Linked DNA regions of Homo sapiens. The protein of the gene in region 1 purifies or fractionates together with the protein of each later gene. This does not show direct contact. Each region holds a gene or a part of one and is shown in the gene's direction. Other genes may lie near its edges.

Region 1 (5,721 bases):
CACTAACCACTATAATTATTTTTGGCTTTTTCAGCCACTGGAACTTTTTTTGGGGGGATTTAAATACAGGAAAACTGTTTAAGCAAAAAATGCACTGCTTTCATGTAAAATGATATAATCTTCTTTAACAAATATTTTCTTCATTGATAACTGACAGATATCTCATAGCATTAACATAAAATACCAGAAACAAACTTTATCTCCCTATTCTTACATTTAGTGCAAATTGGAATGCGTATGTGAATGTTAGAAGATGGACTTAATCTCTGACAACTTTATTAATTTCTCTAGCTACAGCAATGCTATTTAAAAGCCAGTTAGGTATGAATAGTACAGTAATAGTTTGGGTTCTCCCTTGATAAATGAATAAAAGGCTCAATTCTGATAAGTGATCAAATTTCTTGAAATTCTTTCAAATCAGCTGAAAATTTGGTTGGGGTGAATTGATGGTTTTTGAGAAGTAGGCCAGGTATCCTCACAAAGAAGTTTTAGAATAGGGTTTCTTTTAAGTTTTTAAATATCATCCTTTGTCTTTCCATATGGTTTTCATAACCAAATACATGACTATAGCATGGTTATTTTTCTAGTACTGCCATTTGTGATATAGCCACATCTTGGCGTGCAAGCTAGACATCTCAGGTAAATTTGTTTTTTTTTTTTTTTTTAGCCCTAGAGGTAACATTATAACTAAAATGCATTCCTGCAATTCTGTTTGCAGTGCTTCACTAAACATTGAAATAAAGTTGTAAATTTTTTCTTCAGTAATCCATTTTATAGTTAATCATACCAAATTTAAGTTGATGACCTAAAGTCCAGGTAGTGTTGAAGATAGTATGTATCTAGAATACTGGTAATGAGAAATTGTTGTAAATTGAAGAAAACAAGATGCTGCCATATATTAAGATAGAATATAATTAACTCCATGAGAATGGTTACTCAGGAACTAGTTAAAGAGCAAACCCATTTCTCCCGCTTCACTCTGTTTCAGATATTTTTATTGGAAAATGTTAGGGTAGAGGCCTGAGAAAGTTAGCAAATGCTATTGACTGATACTGGCTCTGTGTCTTCCAGTGATTTTTAGTTTGGTTTTTACAGTCAAGCCTACTGCTTGCAATTAAGATATCAATCTGAAATGCATCTGTAATTCCTGGCCACAGGTCCTTATTGCCATTATTTTTAAGTATCTTCATTGGAGATGAACACTGACTTTTGCATATGGTCTCTTACCTCAGGGAAGATCACTTGCTAGCAACTCATACTACTAATGACAGGTTTTTGAGAATTGTACTGACATCACATGTTAGCTACTAAATGCAAAATGTATAAAAGTATTGTTTTATGTAGTTACCTACCAATACTATCTGCTACTGAATAACTCTCTAAATATGTAGACCTCACTAATAACTAACCTTTAGGTAAAAAATTTACTTCTGTCATTAATTACACTTCAACTGGTCAATATAGTGGCAGCATAAAGTGTTTATTTCAGAATATCAATACAGTTTTGTCTTCATTTTTCAACAGTAATTTCAATTGGTTCATACTTAAAATACTACACAGATTTTGAGTTTTATGGTTCTCAAAGCAAGGTTTCCATCTTAAGATTTTTATAAACACAAAGCCTTTGCAAAATTGGATTAAATTCCACCTATCTTAATGTGAATTAAAAACCACCATTTATAATAATAATAGCGCCATATTCTAAGTTGAGTAAATGCATCCTACCATTCAAGGTTATCATATAATTTAACAAAATTGTACAACCTTAAGGCTCTTCACAGTATAAATTAATTTTTCAAACCAGAGCTGTTCACATGAAAATATTCCTTAGTAGAATGTATATTTAAGAAATAAAACAACAAAGGGGAACTATATCACCCATGTAAGTTATAGAGTTAATTACAAGTTCTACCATTCTTGATAATTCTTTGAGATGCTAAGTGTTTCAGTTCATATTTAATGATACTTAAATCGTGGGAATTTTAATGTTTGTTCCAAAATAGCAGAAATTGTAAAAATTATGAATTATTGGAGAAAATGCCATTACTTGTATATCTGACATTTAATTTTTTAATTATGGAGACTACATGCTTTTGTAGTATAATATTAATGATTATTCTCTTGTAAAAGAAAAGGAAAAATTAGTAAAGAAAAAAGTTTTAGTTGATGTTACCTGCTTGTGAGTATCAATTACTTAGTTTTTAAATTTTTAAGGTATTGCCTACTTTTCTTTAGAATGCAGAAATCTCGTCCTGAGCCCTTATTATGCCTGTGGTAGAGCAATGCAAGACTGAAAAGGTTGCCAGTATTTTCAGGCTTATTTGACTAAGAATTAGTGCCAAGAACTGGAAAGTCTACTTTTTGGAGGGAAATGATACTTAGAATTTGTAAACATAAGCAGTAATAGTGTAAATATTTAGAAAAATAGCAAGTGCTTTAACTGCTCAATAAAATAGTATAGATGTTATTTCACCCTTAAGGCACTGGCTGTTGCCCATTATTTTCCGATTTCGTGATTACTGTATATATTACATTTGAGTAATGAATAATTGGTAATAGTGTATTATAGTGTTCTACAGCACACCTTACTGTACAGTATTTGAAGTTTTCTTTTATATCAATAATAAAACTATAAGTTAATACTGATTTTCCCCTGAAATTCTCCACATTAGCTTTTAAAGGTAATTTTATGTTCTTTAGTTTCCTGGAATTATAATGCATGAACATATAGTTCAGTTTTATAAAGAAATTCTTAAATAATAAAGTTTTCTTGTTGAACTTAAGCGGGTTATCGTACAGGAATAGTGATTTTTCCCCTTAATGTAGATTTCATTGCTAGATGAAATGGACCCAGTGAAAAAAGAGTGCGCAATTTAAAAAAAAACCAAAACGGTCTCACTCTGCTGCCCATGCTGGATTGCCGTGGCATGATCAGGGCTCACTGCAGCCTCAACCTCCTGGGCTCAAGTGATCCTCCCACCTCAGCCTCCTGAATAGCTGGGACTACAGGCATGTGCCACCACACCTGGCTAATTTTTGTATTTTTTGTAGAGATAGGGTTTTGCCATGTTGCCCAGGCCGGTCTTGAACCCCTGAGCTCAAGTGATCTGCCCTCCTCTGCCTCTTTAAGTGCTGGGATTACAGGCGTGAGCCACCGCACCCTGCCAGCAAAATTTCTTTAGACATATTACATAATTGGGCCATAATGCTTACTGAATATTTAAAAATGAAGGCAAATTCTAACAGAGAACTTGATTTTGTGGTGGTTTAAAAAAATACTGGTTAGTGATAAGGAAATGAAAGGAAATACAGATAATAGTACTAAATAACGTTTGTGTAGCTTAGCAGTCAACACGTTTACTTCCAAGTTTTATTGTATATGCTTAATATACATTTTATTAGATCATTTAACTCAATAATTTAGAGTATAGCCTTAGACACCAGACTGCCTAGGTCTGACTCCTGGTACGCTGCTTTCTGTGACCTCTCTGTGCATTCCTCTCTGCGAGGATGATGATCACATCTGCTCCCAGGGTGGCTGTCTTAAATGAGTTAACACGTATCTGATGATTAGAAGAGTGCCTGACACATAGTAAACACTCAAATATTTGCTATGTTATATGTTAATGTAATGTGGTAGAGTTCAGTTGCCATTAAGTGGGATAAATCCTCACAGGGCACACATTATTTAAATAATTTGTTACATTAAAACTTATTTTACTTGTACATAATTGACTAAAAAATGGGGGGTTGTACATTCAAACATTTATGACCATGTGCAACACTGAGAATCTCAAACCGACAGTGTGCTCTGTGACCCAAGGCAAGTCTTGGAGCCTTTCAAGGCCTCAATTTCTTCTGTAACCTTGTGGTTTCACAATTGTCAACCTTTTGTTCTGCCGACCATTGTCGTCATAGTCTTACTTGCAGAGGGCATAGTGCTGATGGGACAAGTGACATGGGTATGAGCCCCATGTAAACTAAAACATAATTACCTTTCCTTTAGGTGTTGGCTACAGTTATCCCAAACTTGGACTTGAGGTCTTGTATATGCATGCCATTGGTCACATACCATCAGAATAGAATTCTCAAAAACTCTTTAGTAAATAAGATAAACATCCTACTTATAACAGCTCATTATGGATTTTATTTTTATTGTCTGGCTCTTTCAGACCCCAGCAACTGCAATTCTGACTTAATAATCAATTGTTTCTAATCATTAAAAATGTATATAGAAAAACTGAAGTAAGTCTTTAATTGATTTTCTGAACTGTATATGATACACTGAGGTGAAAAACATATGGGCTCTTCAAATTTGCACACTCTAGAAGTAAACCTGTCTTTGGCCCATTTGTCATACCACGTAAATTATTTGAGAAACAGATAAATTGTGTAGGAATCTGGGGGGATTATTCCTGTTTGTTCTATTTACAGAAACAGGTATAGTACAAAGTCTACCTATAAAGTGATGACATTTTTATATTTGATTTATGGAATCAGTATTTTATTTTTAATTTTCTTTTTTGAGACCGAGTCTCGCTCTGTTGCCCAGGCTGGAGTGCAGTGGCACCATCTTGGCTCACTGCAACCTCCGCCTCCCAGGTTCAAGCAATTCTCCTGCCTTAGCCTCCCGAGTAGCTGGGATTACAGGCACCCGCCACCATGCCCGGCTAATTTTTGTATTAGTAGAGACGGGGTCTCTACTAAATAGAGGGGTCATTCATTATTTTAAACAAGTACTGATAAAATGCCTGTTTTAAAAACTTGGGAAACAGTTCCAAATGAGAGAAATTCCATGCGTCCTTAGAGCTTACATCCCAATGATGGAGACAAGCACAAAACACATTGGTAATAGCTAACATTTAGTGACTCTTTCCCTTGTATCTGGGCAATAGGCTGAACACTACATGCAATAATTAACCGTCAAAAGCCTTTGTGGTTGGGTACTATCATTATCATCTTTTAGGAAACAAGTTGATATAGATTAGTTGGTTTACCTGAAGTCCTGGAGTTAGGTGGCAGAGTTGAGATTTAAATCCAGATGTTTAAGACTCCATAGTCTATGCTGTTAACTTTAATGCTACATTTGTAATTTAGCAAAGGAATAAAATTTGGTGGTCACATAAGTCTTTACAAACATTTATTGTTAAATCTAGCTTGTTTTTAGATACACCAACATGGTTTTAATTGATTTCAGTGTATAGAGTATCTGGCTTTTTTTTTTTTTTTTTAATACAGATGGTCTCTCTGCTGTGCAGGCTGGAGTGCCCAGTGGTGCCATCATAGCTCACTGCAATCTCAAACTCCTGGGCTCAAGTGATCCTGCTGCCTCAGCCTTCCAAATAGCTGGGACTACAGATGTATGTCACCTCACCTGGCTAATTTATTTTTTGTAGAGACGGGGTCTCCCTATGTTGCTCAGGCTAGTCTCAAGTCCCAGAAGTGCTGGGATTACAGGCATGAGCAACAGCTTTAATTTCACTTCCTACTAGTTCCCTTCCTGAACCCTAGTCCTCCATCTCAAGTTCTTCCTTCCTTGGATTTGTTTTCTTGCCTCCTCTAAATTTGGAGGTGCTTTAAGGAAGAGTTTCAGAATTTCTTAGATGACTAACCTGGGTACATTTGAGAATCACTGGTTAAAGTCCAGTTTTTCAAGGACCTAAAATAATTCTTGTTTACTAAGTGGGTCTGCTGCTTTGGAGGGGAGGTTTCCCAAAGGTG
Region 2 (5,132 bases), on another chromosome or scaffold:
CTGGCTGGAGTGCAGTGGCGCGATCTTGGCTCACTGCAGCTACCACCTCCTGGGTTCGAGCAATTCTCCTGTCTCATCTCAGCCACCTGAGTAGCTGGGACTACAGGCATGTGCCACCACTTGCGGCTACTTTTGTATTTTTAGTAGAGACGAGGTTTCACCATGTTGGCCAGGCTGGTCTCGAACTCCTGACCTCAGGTGAGCCATCAGCCTCAGCCTCCCAAAGTGCTGGGATTATAGATGTGAGCCACCGCGCCTGGCCTAGACTTACTCTCTTGAGAGAGTTGTTTAGAATTAAAGTGTTCTCTGTTTACAATTCAATAAAGTTAATAAAAAAGATAGCTGAAGCTGGGTGTGGTAGCTCACACCTGTAATCCCAGCAATTTGGGAGGCTGAGGTGGGTGGATCACTTAAGTCCAGGAGTTTGAGACCAGACTGGGCAACATGGCAAAACCCCATCTCGACAAAAAATACAAAAATTAGCTGGGCATGGTGGCATGCACCTGTAGTCCCAGCTACCTGGGAGGCTGAAGTGGGAGGATCACTTGAGTCCGGGAGGCAGAAGTTGCAGTGAACAGTGACCGTGCCACTGCACTCTAGCCTAGGTGATAAAGCAAGACCTTGCCTCAAACAAAAAAAAAGCAAACCCTGAAAAGTCTACATGCATATTGAATGTTTAAAAACAAATAAAATGAATTAGATAAAGCAAATATCTTGAAAGATAAAACTGTGAAAAATTTTATACTAAGAAATGAGCCAACTTATTTGACATTGATAAATTATTTCCTAGAGAAAAGTGTAATTGAAGTTTGACTAAAGAAAAAAAAAAACAAACAGCCTAAATAATTGTATAGCCAGTCAAGTAATTCAATCAGAAAAATCTTAATCCAGGAAACACAGGCCCAGATGGTTATATATGCAAGTTCTTCCTCACACTCAAGCAATAAATTGCTCTTAGATATTCTAAAAATAGAGAAAGAACATATCCCCCAACTCATTCTCTGAGGTCGGCATAACCTTGATCACCAAAACCACACAAGGATAGGAGAAAGGTAAACTACAGATCATTGTCACTTGATACAGATACATAGATTGTAGATAAAATATTGACAAAAGAATCTGGTCATATATAAGGAAGATTCTATACGGCAGCTGAGTGTAATAAAGCTCCAGTAGTTAAGACACCATATGGCATTGGTTCTGGAGTAGACAAGTAGGCCAGTGGAAGAAAGCTTTATATACAAAGAATCTTGGTCCACCACTGAGGCAGCATTGATGTCACCAGGCAAAGGAGATACTGGGGTTGCGGAATCTGGGATATTGACTATTCCTAAGATGAAAAAACAAATTGAGTTCCTAACTCATACCATAGTCAAAAATAAATTGCAGATGAATGGGTAAATAATATGTGGTACACACATACAATGTAATATTATTCAACATTAAAAAGGAAGGGAATTCTGACACATGCTACCACATGGATGAACATTCTGCTCAGTGAAATAAACCAGATGCAGACAGACAAATACTACATTCCGCTTACATGAGTACTTAGAGTAGTCAAACTCATGGGAGACAGAAAGTAGAATCACCTGGACACCGTGGTTCACACCTGGCATCCCAGCACTTTGGGAGGCCAAGGTTGGAGGATTGTTTGAGCCCAGGAGTTTGAGAGTAGCCTGGGTAACATAGTGTGATCCTGTCACTACAAAAAATTAATGAAAAAATTTTAAAATTAGCTGGGCGTAGTGGCATGTGCCTAGTTACAGCTATTCAGGAGGCTGAGGCGGGAGGATCAGTTGAGTCTGCAGTGAGCCAGGGTCAAGGCACTGCACTCCAGCCTGGGGGACTGAGCAAGACCCTGCCTCAAGGGAAAAAAAAAAAAAAAAAGAATGGTGGTTGCCAGGGCCTCGAGGAAGCAGGAATCAAAAGTGAATGTTTAGAAACGTATAGTAATTTGGCATTGTCATAACCTCCACACACATGGCCACAGAACCAGTACTTGTCTTGGTGAGCTCTGGGCGTCTGGTGTGTGTTGTGTCTTGCTTCTGTGCAGGAGGACCACATGGCAGTCCAGCAGACTGCACATTTTTAAAAACTAGGTCTTCCCAGGTAGTTTGAGGAGCACCAACCTAGAAAATTGGTCCCATAGTTTAAAAAAAAAGTATTTAATATTATGCCAATACATAAAAGTAAATGGAAAATGTCACAGGAATATTTATCCTTACTAAATGCAATAGTACTTCTAGGGTACTGTCTTCCAATTCTTTCCTTTTCAGTTCTGCTTGCAGCCCTGTTGGTTTTATGACCCACTGATTATTTGTGGCCTTTTGAAAACATGAAAACGGTAGAGAAGCATGAGCCAAGCCCTAGGAGACATGTTTGAATGTTTATAGTAGTGTCATTAACACAGCAAAATGATTGGAAACAGGCCGGATGCTCAGTGGATAAGTGGTAGTATATCCACACAATGACAGATCCTTTTTTTATTCCTTATCTATTCAATAATTATGACACTTTTAAAAGTAGATTTGGCCCTGCTTAGGTTTTTTTTTTAAATGGTGGGACTATCCAGACTTTTTAAAATGGTTGTAAAAGCAAGACATACTGGCCGGGCATGGTGGCCCATGCCTGTAATCCCAGCACTTTGGGAGGCTGAGGCGGGTGGATCACAACGTCAGGAGTTCAAGACCAGCCTGGCCAACATAGTGAAACACCATCTCTACTAAAAACACAAAAATTAGCTGGGTGTGGTGGCACGCACCTGTAGTCCCAGTTACTTGGGAGGCTGAGGCAAGAGAATCGCTGGAACCCGGGAGGCGGAGGTTGCAGTGAGCCAAGACCATACCATTGCACTCCAGCTTGGGTGCCAGAGCGAGCCTCCATCTCGAAAAAAAAAAAAAAAAAAAAGCAAGACAGACTTTAGATAAAAGCAAAGAACCTGAAATGATGCAGGAAAAAGTAGATAGGGCCACTTTTAATTTCTATGCTTCTGGAGTTTGTTTGTTTGCTTGTTTGTTTGTTTGTTTTTGACACAGAGTCTCGCTCTGTTGCCCAGGCTGGAGTGCAGTGGCCCGATCTCAGCTTACTGCAAGCTCCACCTCCTGGGTTCACACCATTCTCCTGCCTCAGCCTCCCGAATAGCTGGGACTACAGGCACCTGCCACCACTCCCAGCTAATTTTTTGTATTTTTTAGTAGAGACGGGTCTTCACCATGTTAGCAAGGATGGTCTCATTTGCCTGACCTCGTGATCTGCCCTCCTCGGCCTCCCAAAGTGCTGGGATTACAGGCGTGAGCCACCACGCACGGCCCTGCTTCTGGACATTTTTTATGTGCCTTTTTTACATAGGTGAGGTCATCTTAGACACAAGCAACATGACTGGTTTTACAATTATTTTCCTGTTGGCTGCGTAGCATACCATTGTATAACTGTAAATTTACATATGAAGAAATATAATTCAGCTGCATTTTGAGTATACAGACAGTCCCTGACCATGGTTCTACCTAGAATTTTTCAACTTTATTATGATGCAAACATGATACACATTCAGTAAAAACCATACTTTGAATACCTATACAACCATTCTGTTTTTGATCTTCAGTACAGTATTCAATAAATTACATGAGTTATTCAACATTTTATTATAAAATAAGCTTTATAGTAGATGATTTTGCCCAACTGTAGGCTAATGTATGTGTTCTGAGAATGGTTAAGGCAGGCTGCACTATGATGTTTGGTAGGTTAGGAATATTAATACATTTTTAACTTATAAGTTTATGGGACTTGGTTCCATCATAAGTCAAGGAGCATCTGTACAGTGGTATTAGTGACGTTGGTATGAGCATTCTTAGAATTTTCTCATTGGGTATAGCTAGTTATTTACTTAGAATAAATTTCGAAGGCCGAGTGCGGTGGCTTATGTCTGTAATCCCAGTTCTTTGTGTGGCCGAGGTGGGCGGATCACCTGAGGTCAGGAGTTCGAGACCAGCCTGGCCAACATGGTGAAACCCCATCTCTACAACAATACAAAAATTAGCCAGGTGTAGTGGCACATGCCTATAGTCCCAGCTACTAGGGAGGCTGAGGCAGGAGAAGTGCTTGAACCCTGGAGGCGGAGGTTGCAGTGAGCCAAGATCGCACCACTGCACTCCAGCCTGGGCGATAGAGCGAGATTCTGTCTAAAAATAAATAAATAAAATAAATAGTAAAGTTCCAGAAGTGAACTTTCCAGGTTAAAGGTTGTTAGTGTCTTTTGCAGTTAGCTGTATAACTACCTTGTCTAATTTGAACCATATCTGGGGAACAGCATCTCTTCAGCGATGGGCACAGGGCAGCCTGTCCCTTATGGCAGTGTTGTCACAGCAAGAAGTGCAGCTGTAGGTTGTGTCATGGGCATGAATGCTGTGTCATTCGCAGGAGCCAGTAGAGCCACAGTAACATGGACAGCGACAGCTCCAGTGCTGCCAGGAAACCATCCAACTGATTTCTGTGTTTGCCCCACAGATCTACGAACTGCGTGTGATGGAGACCAAACCCGACAAGGCAGTGTCCATCATTGAGTGTGACATGAACGTGAGTGGCTCTGTCCAGTTACAGTGAGCCTGGGCCCTGGGAGGATGGGCAGTTGGTGACCACTGCAGGCCAGGGTGTCAGGAGGGCATCAAACAGCCCCTGGGACTCTGGGTAAAGAGGAGGAAGATGCTGTCAGAACATCATGAGGAGACTGTGACCTTGTGATCTATCTCAGGGCCAGTTGGGGCAACAGAGTTTGCTGCCAGTGCTGCCATGGTTAGCTCTGACCCGTTGAGGAGTGAATATTCTTTTTTTTTTTGAGACTTAGTTTCACTCCTGTTGCCCAGGCTGGAGTGCAGTGGTGCGATCTTGGCTCACTACAACCTCCACCTCCCAGGTTCAAGCGATTCTCCTGCCTCAGCCTCCCGAGTAGCTGGGATTACAGGCATGTGCCACCAGGCCCGGCTAGTTTTGTATTTTGGTAGAGACAGGGTTTTACCATGTTGGCCAAGCTGGTCTCAAACTCCTGACCTCAGGTAATCCACCCGCCTCGGCCTCCCAAAGTGCTGAGATTACAGGTGTGGGCCACCGCGCCTGGCCGAGGAGTGAATATGCTT

What was found.
Region 2: the proteins of VCPIP1 (region 1) and UFD1 purify together in Homo sapiens (affinity purification with mass spectrometry; 2 studies listed by BioGRID and IntAct, with this or other methods). This does not show direct contact.

What each region holds. Positions count from the first base shown.
Region 1 is NC_000008.11:66,627,011-66,632,731, reverse strand, and holds the end of VCPIP1 (deubiquitinating protein VCPIP1), read left to right. Parts: 3' UTR 1-4,245; downstream 4,246-5,721. UniProt on the Homo sapiens protein: Deubiquitinating enzyme involved in DNA repair and reassembly of the Golgi apparatus and the endoplasmic reticulum following mitosis. Necessary for VCP-mediated reassembly of Golgi stacks after mitosis.
Region 2 is NC_000022.11:19,457,514-19,462,645, reverse strand, and holds part of UFD1 (ubiquitin recognition factor in ER-associated degradation protein 1), read left to right. Parts: intron 1-4,506; coding exon 4,507-4,575; intron 4,576-5,132. UniProt on the Homo sapiens protein: Essential component of the ubiquitin-dependent proteolytic pathway which degrades ubiquitin fusion proteins.